Linked DNA regions of Homo sapiens: all the other regions are linked to region 3. The links come from fine-mapping of genetic effects on gene expression. A gene starts in region 3. Each other region holds a variant in brackets. All regions are shown on one strand. Distances are from middle to middle. Region 1 has its middle 51 kb from the start of ALX4. Region 2 overlaps ACCS (1-aminocyclopropane-1-carboxylate synthase homolog (inactive)). Region 3 holds the start of EXT2 (exostosin glycosyltransferase 2).

Region 1 (2,758 bases), 160 kb after region 3:
CACACACACACACATACACACTCTCATTTATTTTCATTCTTTCCCATGGTGTAGCTTGGCCCTACTATCATAGCTACAGGGAGCCCCTTCCTTTCCAGAAGCGCCTGGAAATTACAGAGGTACGCTGTGGGTAGAGGACAGAGAAGGGATGGAGAGGGGGCTTGTGATGCAACCAAAGAGAAATCCCAGGAGGCAAGGCAAGAACACTGTGTCCTCTGCACATCTAAGAACCACATCCTGATTGGGGTTCCGGGCAGATCTCATGCAGGCAGTACAGTGGGTTTTCTCCCAACTAGTTAAGGCAACACCTTAACACATGGTGTACACATGCTCATAAATTGAAGCTCCCTGTGGAGGTTTGCCCTTCCTCAAGCCTGTTGGTCTTTGTTGAGCTTAAAAAAAAATCTGTTTGGAATCACACAGAATTCCTGGGAAAATTTCAACTCTCACACCCCATTGTCTTCTGGCGCTAACTTGCATCTTCTCACTTGTGCACATACACAGTTTGCCGTCAGCCCTATTTTGGGGAACTGGCTATTTGTGGAGAGCCTATTGTTCCTTAGCTGCTGAGCATGCAAGTCTAGACCTGTGGAAGGAGAGGTACCACCACCACTCCACGCCCTGCTCGCCAGATTGAAGATTCTGCTGTCACATGGCCCAGCCAGCTTGTGGAGCCCTGGGGTTGGCTGTGTTGCCTGTAGCAAGACCTGGGACAATGGGATTGGTGATGAGCTGAAGGCAAGAGTGGTTTCTGCTGGGGTTGGCACCAAGGCAGGAAAGGAGCTGTCTTCAGCCAGTCGCTGAAGCTGGAGTTGAGAGTGGAGGGCTTAAGGGCATGAGGATTATCCAGGGATGCTGGAGAAAGTGGGCTTTGAGCCCAGGGACAAGTCGAGAAGCTTCCAGATGTGCACTCTTGGACACAGGACCTCTTGCGCCATCTTGGGGAGCTGGCCTGGTGCTGACCAGTGCTGTCCCAACCCCGGCAACACTAAATAAACAGGCCAGGTTTACTGCCGTGGCCACAGCTCATCTTGAATGCATGTGAACCCTGGAGGAATGGGGTGGATGAGGTTCATGGTCAAGCAGAGGCTCTGACACTCCAGGAAGATCTCTAGTGGGCTGAGTCAGCTTCCAGCTGTCTGTAAAACGAATCCCTGAGTGTCCTCTGACCTCCCTCCTCCCACCCTTAATCAAAACAGAGCATCTCTTTATTCTCACCTTCCCATTCATTCACTCATTCGCACATTACCTAACATTCTTATTCTCTCAGGCATTCGGATGTGAACACAGCCTGTCTCCTCTTTGGGATGTGAGGAAGTCAGATGGATAAATAGATATACGGTATCATGTGCCATCATGGTATTATGACACA[A/T]ACAGTTTTGTGGAGGCCAGAGGGGCAGCCTTTGACCTAGGGGTGGAAGTTGAGGTGAGGGCATGGGCTTAAGAAAGAGCTTCACAGAGGGTGCTATCATTTGGAGGATACACTGCAGAGTGGCTGGGTGCATTGGAGGGGATCTAGGGAGGAGATAGAGGCATTCTAAGAAGAGATAGCAAGTCCAGTGGTGTGGCCAGGTGAAAAGGCCTAGATGGCTTGGGGAACAACAAGCTGTGCTGGGTGGTCAGACCCAGTGAAGGGCTGAGCCGTAGTCCACAGTCAGAGGAGGCCCTGCTGGCCCTGGCCTTGTCGTTGTTCTCCCCAGAGACCACTTGGAGGCACAGGTCCCAGGGGTGGGCTACCTGCATCCCCCGTGATGCCTAAGTCACACATCAGGCCAGTCTTCCTCTTCAGCAGTGGTGCTCATCTGGACTCTGAAGGATTTGGGGGGTGCTCAGCTCCCACAGGAAGAAGCAGGGGTGTGAGGTAGAGACAACACCCCGTGGTTTCGCATGTGGTTTGCACATGGCTTTTCTCCCTCTCTGCTTCAATTCCTGCCCTGTGACTTGGCAGTGATTTGGTGTGGAGTGTCCAAGTGCTACCATGACCCTGAGCCCTAATATAGGACAGGTGTCATTTTTTAAAAAAACAAGCTCCCAGCCCAGGTCAACCTAAAACCCAGTTGGGTCTATACTGAATGTGAATGCACTGACACAGGTATCAAATCTGAGATGTGGTTCCAAGAGAACAATGTCCAAATAGTTGGAAAGAGAGGATAAAATGGAGCTTGTTGTTGTTGTTATTGTTTTATCAGACTCACAGCTGGGAGCTGGAGGGAGATGTCATTCTCTGGGAGTAATCATTGTCCCTTATGTCACTATGCCACATCGGCTTACAAAGCCCATGCATGGACATTGTCCACTTAATCCTCCCCCCTCCATTGGTAAGCTAAGCAGGGACAGGGCTTGTTTCTATCCTTCAGATGTGAGAACTTAGACTCAGCTGGTTTGGTCAACAAAAATGACTCCCTGTCCACACAGTGGTCCCTTGGAGGCTGACTGCCTCTTCCTGAGTCGCCTTCGTGCTGGAAAGCAAGGAAACACCTATACGACAGTAGAACCTGGGTTCCTTCTGCTTCATAATTTGTCTTCAGAGGTTTGCTTTAAAAGTTGTCTGGCCATATGTCCTGGAAGGACAGTTCCCCTGCCCACTCAGTAGCAGAGCCAGAACTGGGACCCGCCTCTCCTGGAGGTCCACCCTGTGCTCCTGGTGTCAAGCAGCCTGGACCTCTGCGCTCTGGCTCTCCTGCTTTCAGAACAGCCCCTGGGAACAGAACGGTACTCAGTGGCACCGAGGGGCTGGCAGTGCTGGTTGTGAAGACCT
Region 2 (2,758 bases), 23 kb before region 3:
TCTAGGGGGCATCACCAGCTCCGAGGAGCTGTCTTCCCTGGAATGCTTTCCCAACAGGAGCCTGCTGCTTGGCTCAGTGGCCCTGGCCTGGGAATCAGGAGACCCGGGTTCCAGGCCTACCTTGGGACAGTTTTCTGTGTGATCTTAGGTGAGTTTCTTCCCCACTGTAGTCCTATTTCTTCATCTCTGTAGACTCTTATTTCACTCAGTCCCTCCTGCTGTGTTGGGTCCCCTGATCTCAGAGGGAAACACTCAGTGCTTTGTGGTGTAGGTATTTAGCAATTAGCTCTTCAGGGGGACAAAAAAAGCCTGATGTGTAGTTTTGCCAATTTCCGTAGTGTAAATACTCCCACCATGGCTGATTTCAAGCTCCTTATGTGATATCACTGCAGGCAGAGTTGGAAGAGAGCTGCATGGGCACACTTATGTAATATTTTCACCATATAGACATGTAGACAGAACTGACCTCAAAAACATAGATAGTAAAAGGTACTAGCAAATCAGGAAGCAGTGACGTTTGAGTGCTTATCACCTTTGTTTGTAAGATAATGTATTTCATTGTCAGTTTATATTAATTTGCTTTTTAAAAGTGGCTGTTTTTAACACAGCTTGCAACATTTCTGAAAATTTTATAATCCGATTTCTTGAGCTGTGGTAAGCCATCTTAGCAACCACTGACAATGCCTAATAAATGTGTCTCCCAAGGCGGCAGTGGCAGAGTTTGGGTTTGTAGAGACAGCAATCCTTAACCCAAAGGAACATATTTCCAAAGGGAGAAATCTCAACCCCAAGGGGAAGGGGTTATAGGGAATAGATTTTATTTATTTATTTATTTATTTATTTAAGATGGAGTCTTACTCTGTTGCCCAGGCTGGAGTGTAGTGGTGTGATCTCAGCTCACTACAACCCCCTCCTCCCGGGTTCAAGCAATTCTCCTGCCACAGCCTCCTGAGTAGCTGGGATTACAGGCACACACCACCATGCCCGGCTAATTTTTGTATTTTTAGTAGAGACAGGGTTTCACCATTTTGGCCAGGCTGGTCTCGAACTCCTGACCTTGTGATTCGCCCGCCTTGGCCTCCCAAAGTGCTAGGATTACAGGCGTGAGCCACTGCACCCGGCCAGGGAATAGATTTTAAAGGCCTGTTTTACCTAAAGCCAGCTCCTCCTTCTAAGGCAGCTAAGCACTGAAATAAAAGGTGAGCCACATATATCAATTTAAATTTTCTATTAAAAAAAATAAAAAGATGCCAGGTAAAAACTAATTTTAATAATATATTTTATTTAGCCCAATATATTCAAAATATGACCATTTTAGCATGTCATCAGTACAAAAATTATTAATGATATATTTTACATACTTTTTTCCTACCAAGTTTTCAAAATCCAGTGTGTCTTAATTCAGATGAACCACATTTCAAATGTTCATTAGCCACATGTGGCCAGTGGCTACCATGTTGGACAGTGTGGCTCTAAGGGAGGAAGGGAGAGAGGGCAAAGGCTGGACCCAGTTATGTAGAAGTGGCTGATTCC[C/T]TTTCTTCCTTTTGGCCCCAGTGCGTAAGGCCCCTGCATTGGCCCTTCTTTGACAAAGGACCTACAATACTAGGAGTTTCTAACCTAGCACTGGTCATGGAATGGGTGGTCTAGAAACTGCTACTTTTTTTAAAGTGTGAGGTTGAGCTGAGCTTGCAGGAAGACAGTGGCCTAAGTCCCTCTAGAAGTTGGAGCCAAGACTGAGGTTCTAGCTCTCAGTATCTTCTATCACCCCATGGAGATGCTGATCAGTGTGCTCTTCCGTTAATACTTTTGCAAACCCACCCCTCCGATTTTTTTAGGTGGCAGTGTTGTATAAAGAATGCCAGACTAGGAGTCAAAAATTTTGGGTTTTTGTCTCAGCTCTGCCACTTGCTAGCTCTGTGACCTTGGCTGAGTGACCTCACTTTTTTGGACCTCAGTTTCCTCACCTGCAACATGGGTATGAGAAAGCTGTCACTCTCTGCCCCTCTCGCAGTTTCTCTGATGAGCAGAACAAGCGTTCAGCTTTACCTGCCCTGTGCTGTGGATGCTGGTAGCAGTGCTGGCCCTCAGCCGTGCTCTTCCCTCTCTGTCCCCAGCTGAGTCAGCGCGACATGCAGAGGGTGGAGCCATCCCTGCTGCAGTATGCTGACTGGAGGGGACATCTGTTGTAAGTAGTTGCCATAGGGTGAGTTTGTCCCCCTGGGGATGTGTGGCAATGTTGGGAGACATTTTTGGTTGTTATAACTGGGAAGTCAGGTGCTCCTGGCATTTAGTGTGTAGAGGTCAGGGATGCTGCCTAAAGTTCTACAATGTACAGGACAGCCCCCACAATGAAGAATGACCTGGCCCCGAACATCAGTAGTGGCAGGCTGAGGGCCTAGTCCTGGAGACCTGGCGACTATGGGGTCTCCTGCCAGTCCCACCTCAGCACAGGAGCTCGCTAGTCTGGTTTCTGGGAACCTGGGTTTAAAGCATGGGGAGGGCCTTCAGGTGAGAAGTCTTTGTCCTTGCTTTGATGGTAGCTTTAGAGAAGCCAGAATTGCTGTTCGGGGAGCTGGCTGGGGCCTTTTCCTAATGCTAAGAGGGGAGGTGGTAAATAACACTAATAGCTTGTGCTTATTGAACACTTGCTTGTGGACACTGTTCTAAGGGCTCAGCGGCTGAGCAGGACTTGATCCCAAGACTGATTGTAAAGCACGTGTTCTTCTAGTGTAGTAATCAGGGTGGTGGGCCCTGGAGT
Region 3 (2,750 bases):
TAGATCTGTGACAAGCAGGCATTAACTCACAAAAATATCCCTGGAATCGAGGTTGCTGCCGGAAGCCTCTGTAGGTATCTAGTCTCAGAATCATCACTTTGAATATTTAAGCTATCAGTGACAACTTCCACCAGATGGCGCCAAAGTACATCTGGGACCAGAAGGGATTTGGATCCTGTAGCCAGACCCACAACTCTACCAAACCAACATCGCAGGCCCAGGGGTCATTTCATTAACCTCTCAATAACATCGCTCTGAATTTTAATTTAATTTTTTAGTTTCCACTTACTGCTTTATGACAGCGGTTTTAGTGTGCATGGATAGGGCTAAATCATGTAAATAATAGAGAAAGATACAAAACAAAAATGCGTTTTTTTTTTTTTTTTTTGGAGACAGGGTCTTGCTCTATCACCCAGGCTGGAGTGCAGTGGCACGACCACGGCCCACTGCAGCCTTGACCTCCTGGGCTCAAGCAATCTTCCTGCCTCTGCCTCCTAAGTAGTTGGGACTACAAGCGTGTGCTACGATGCCTAGTTAACTTTTTATTTTTTGTAGAGATGGGGTCTTGCTCTGCTGCCCAGGCTGGTCTCAAACTCTTGGGCTCAAGCGATCCTCTCGTTTAGGCCTCCCCAAATGCTGGAATTACAGGCGTGAGCCACCTTTCCTCGCCATAAATGCTTCCATTTCCGCCTCGACAACTACTCCACCTGAAGCTGTTCATTTCTTCTTGCATTCCTTCCAGAAAAAAGTTATACACATGCCTGAATATAAGCACCTACTTTATATATTTCTCCCTCTTGTTTTTGCATATGCATAGTTTACCTAAAAGTGACTTGCCCGCTGTTTTGGACTACGCTTTGATCTTAACTAATATCTTGGAGATATTTCCTTACCCAAATATATTGCACTATCTCACATTACTCAAATCAATCAAATTCCATAATTTATTTCGATTGTGTCTAGCATTTCGCTATGATTAGAAAGAATGCTGTCATGGAACTTTTTGACAAACATTGTTGAGAATATCCATAGGGCAAACTCCGTACAGAGAGCTTGTTGGAATGAAGGGTACCAGCATTTTCCGTTTGATGGATAGTACCAAATTGCCCTCCAGGAATGTTATACGCTCACCAGAACTGATTATAATAAAACGTCTACATATTTGTTAGTTTTATAAGCAACGCGTGGTGTCTCGTTTGGGTTTAAGGATTCTTTAATTATGAATGAGGCTGTCTGAGCATTTCACTGCGGAGCCTGAGCGCGCCTGCCTGGGAAAACACTGCAGCGGTGCTCGGACTCCTCCTGTCCAGCAGGAGGCGCGGCCCGGCAGCTCCCGCATGCGCAGTGCGCTCGGTGTCAGACGGCCCGGATCCCGGTTACCGGCCCCTCGCTCGCTGCTCGCCAGCCCAGACTCGGCCCTGGCAGTGGCGGCTGGCGATTCGGACCGATCCGACCTGGGCGGAGGTGGCCCGCGCCCCGCGGCATGAGCCGGTGACCAAGCTCGGGGCCGAGCGGGAGGCAGCCGTGGCCGAGGTAAGCGCGGCTCTCCAGGGCGGCGGCCGGGCGGGCGCTGAAGCGAGGGCTCGGGCCTCCGGGGGCCGCTGCTGGGTCGGGACAAGGGCCGAGGGAGCGCGGCCGCGCGGAGGCTCCGTGGAGGCCCGTGGGCTGCGAGAGGCCACCCCCAGCCCCGCCGGGGCTGTGACAATGACTGCCCGCTTTTGGAGCGCTCCGATTTCCACTCCTGCTTCTCCTTCTCCTCCGGCGGCGGCCGCGCTTTCAGCATCTTGGTACCCACCTGTTCTCCTAGCCAACCTTCGCCCCCAGTCCGCTCCTTCCTTTCCTCCTGCGACCCGCCCTCCGCCCTCCGCCGTGACCCCTCCCTTCCTGCTGCCACCTTCCCGCCAGCCACAGGGATCTGATTCCTCCCAGGGGGATGTCCTGCGCCTCAGGGTCCGGTGGTGGCCTGCGGCATCCCTTGCGGTGCCAGAAGCCGTGGGACGAGGTAGGGAAGGGGCCAGGGGCATGTTATGCCGGGGACTGGGTGGTCGGGGGCGTGTTAGGCCGGGGACTGGGTGACCGGGAACTAGATGGCCGGGGGCGTGTTAGGCCGGGGACTGGGTGGCCGGGGTCATGTTGGGCCAGGCACTAGGTGGCTGGGGGCGTGTTAGGCAGGGGACTGGGTGGCCGGGGGCCTGTCAGGACGGGGCAGGAGTATGTTAGACTGCGGACTAGATTGCTGGTGGCATGTTAGGCCAGGGACTAGGTGGCCCGGGGGTGTGTCGGGCCGGGGCCAGGGGCATGTTAGTCTCGGGACTAGGTGGCCAGAAGCACACTGGCTCTGGGCTTCAACTTGAAGTCCAGAGGTGTTTGGGGCTTTGTTACATTCGGTGGGAACCAGATCTAAACACACAATTTTGAGAATCAAAGAATTGCTTGGTGTTACTGATTGGGCAATGCTAATCTAGAAAGGTTCTTGACTTATTTATGTGAAGATATGGTCTTGAAATATGTACATTTAAATTCTTGTAAGTCTTAACTTCTTGTAAGTCAGGTAAGTGCTCTATGTACTTTAACTGGACTTAGTTTGTAACTTTCAGAACTCAAAGGCTATTCACTGTAATAAAATAGATGATTCAGTTTCCATCATTCACTTTCCCCGACTTCCTGGTTGCATGTGAGGGTATGAATGGATAATCAGTTTTGGGGCCAGACTGCCATGCTGTGAATCCTAGCTTTGGCATTTCCAGTTG

Evidence for each region. PIP is the estimated chance that this variant, and not a neighbour inherited with it, causes the effect.
Region 1: its variant is fine-mapped to the expression of EXT2 in spleen (GTEx, PIP 0.95).
Region 2: its variant is fine-mapped to the expression of EXT2 in whole blood (TOPMed, PIP above 0.99).

What each region holds. Positions count from the first base shown.
Region 1 is chr11:44,257,301-44,260,058 of GRCh38, forward strand. No RefSeq gene overlaps it. Among named protein-coding and RNA genes, the nearest start is that of ALX4, 51 kb to the right of the region's middle. The variant A/T (reference allele first, on the strand shown) is at 1,373.
Region 2 is chr11:44,071,333-44,074,090 of GRCh38, forward strand. It overlaps ACCS (1-aminocyclopropane-1-carboxylate synthase homolog (inactive)), which reads left to right. Exons shown (of 15, transcript NM_032592.4): 4 at 2,115-2,185. Among named protein-coding and RNA genes, the nearest start is that of ACCS, 6.4 kb to the left of the region's middle. The variant C/T (reference allele first, on the strand shown) is at 1,534.
Region 3 is chr11:44,094,320-44,097,069 of GRCh38, forward strand. EXT2 (exostosin glycosyltransferase 2) reads left to right here and starts at 1,359. Exons shown (of 14, transcript NM_207122.2): 1 at 1,359-1,533. RefSeq lists a silencer at 1,226-1,845 and an enhancer at 2,266-2,315.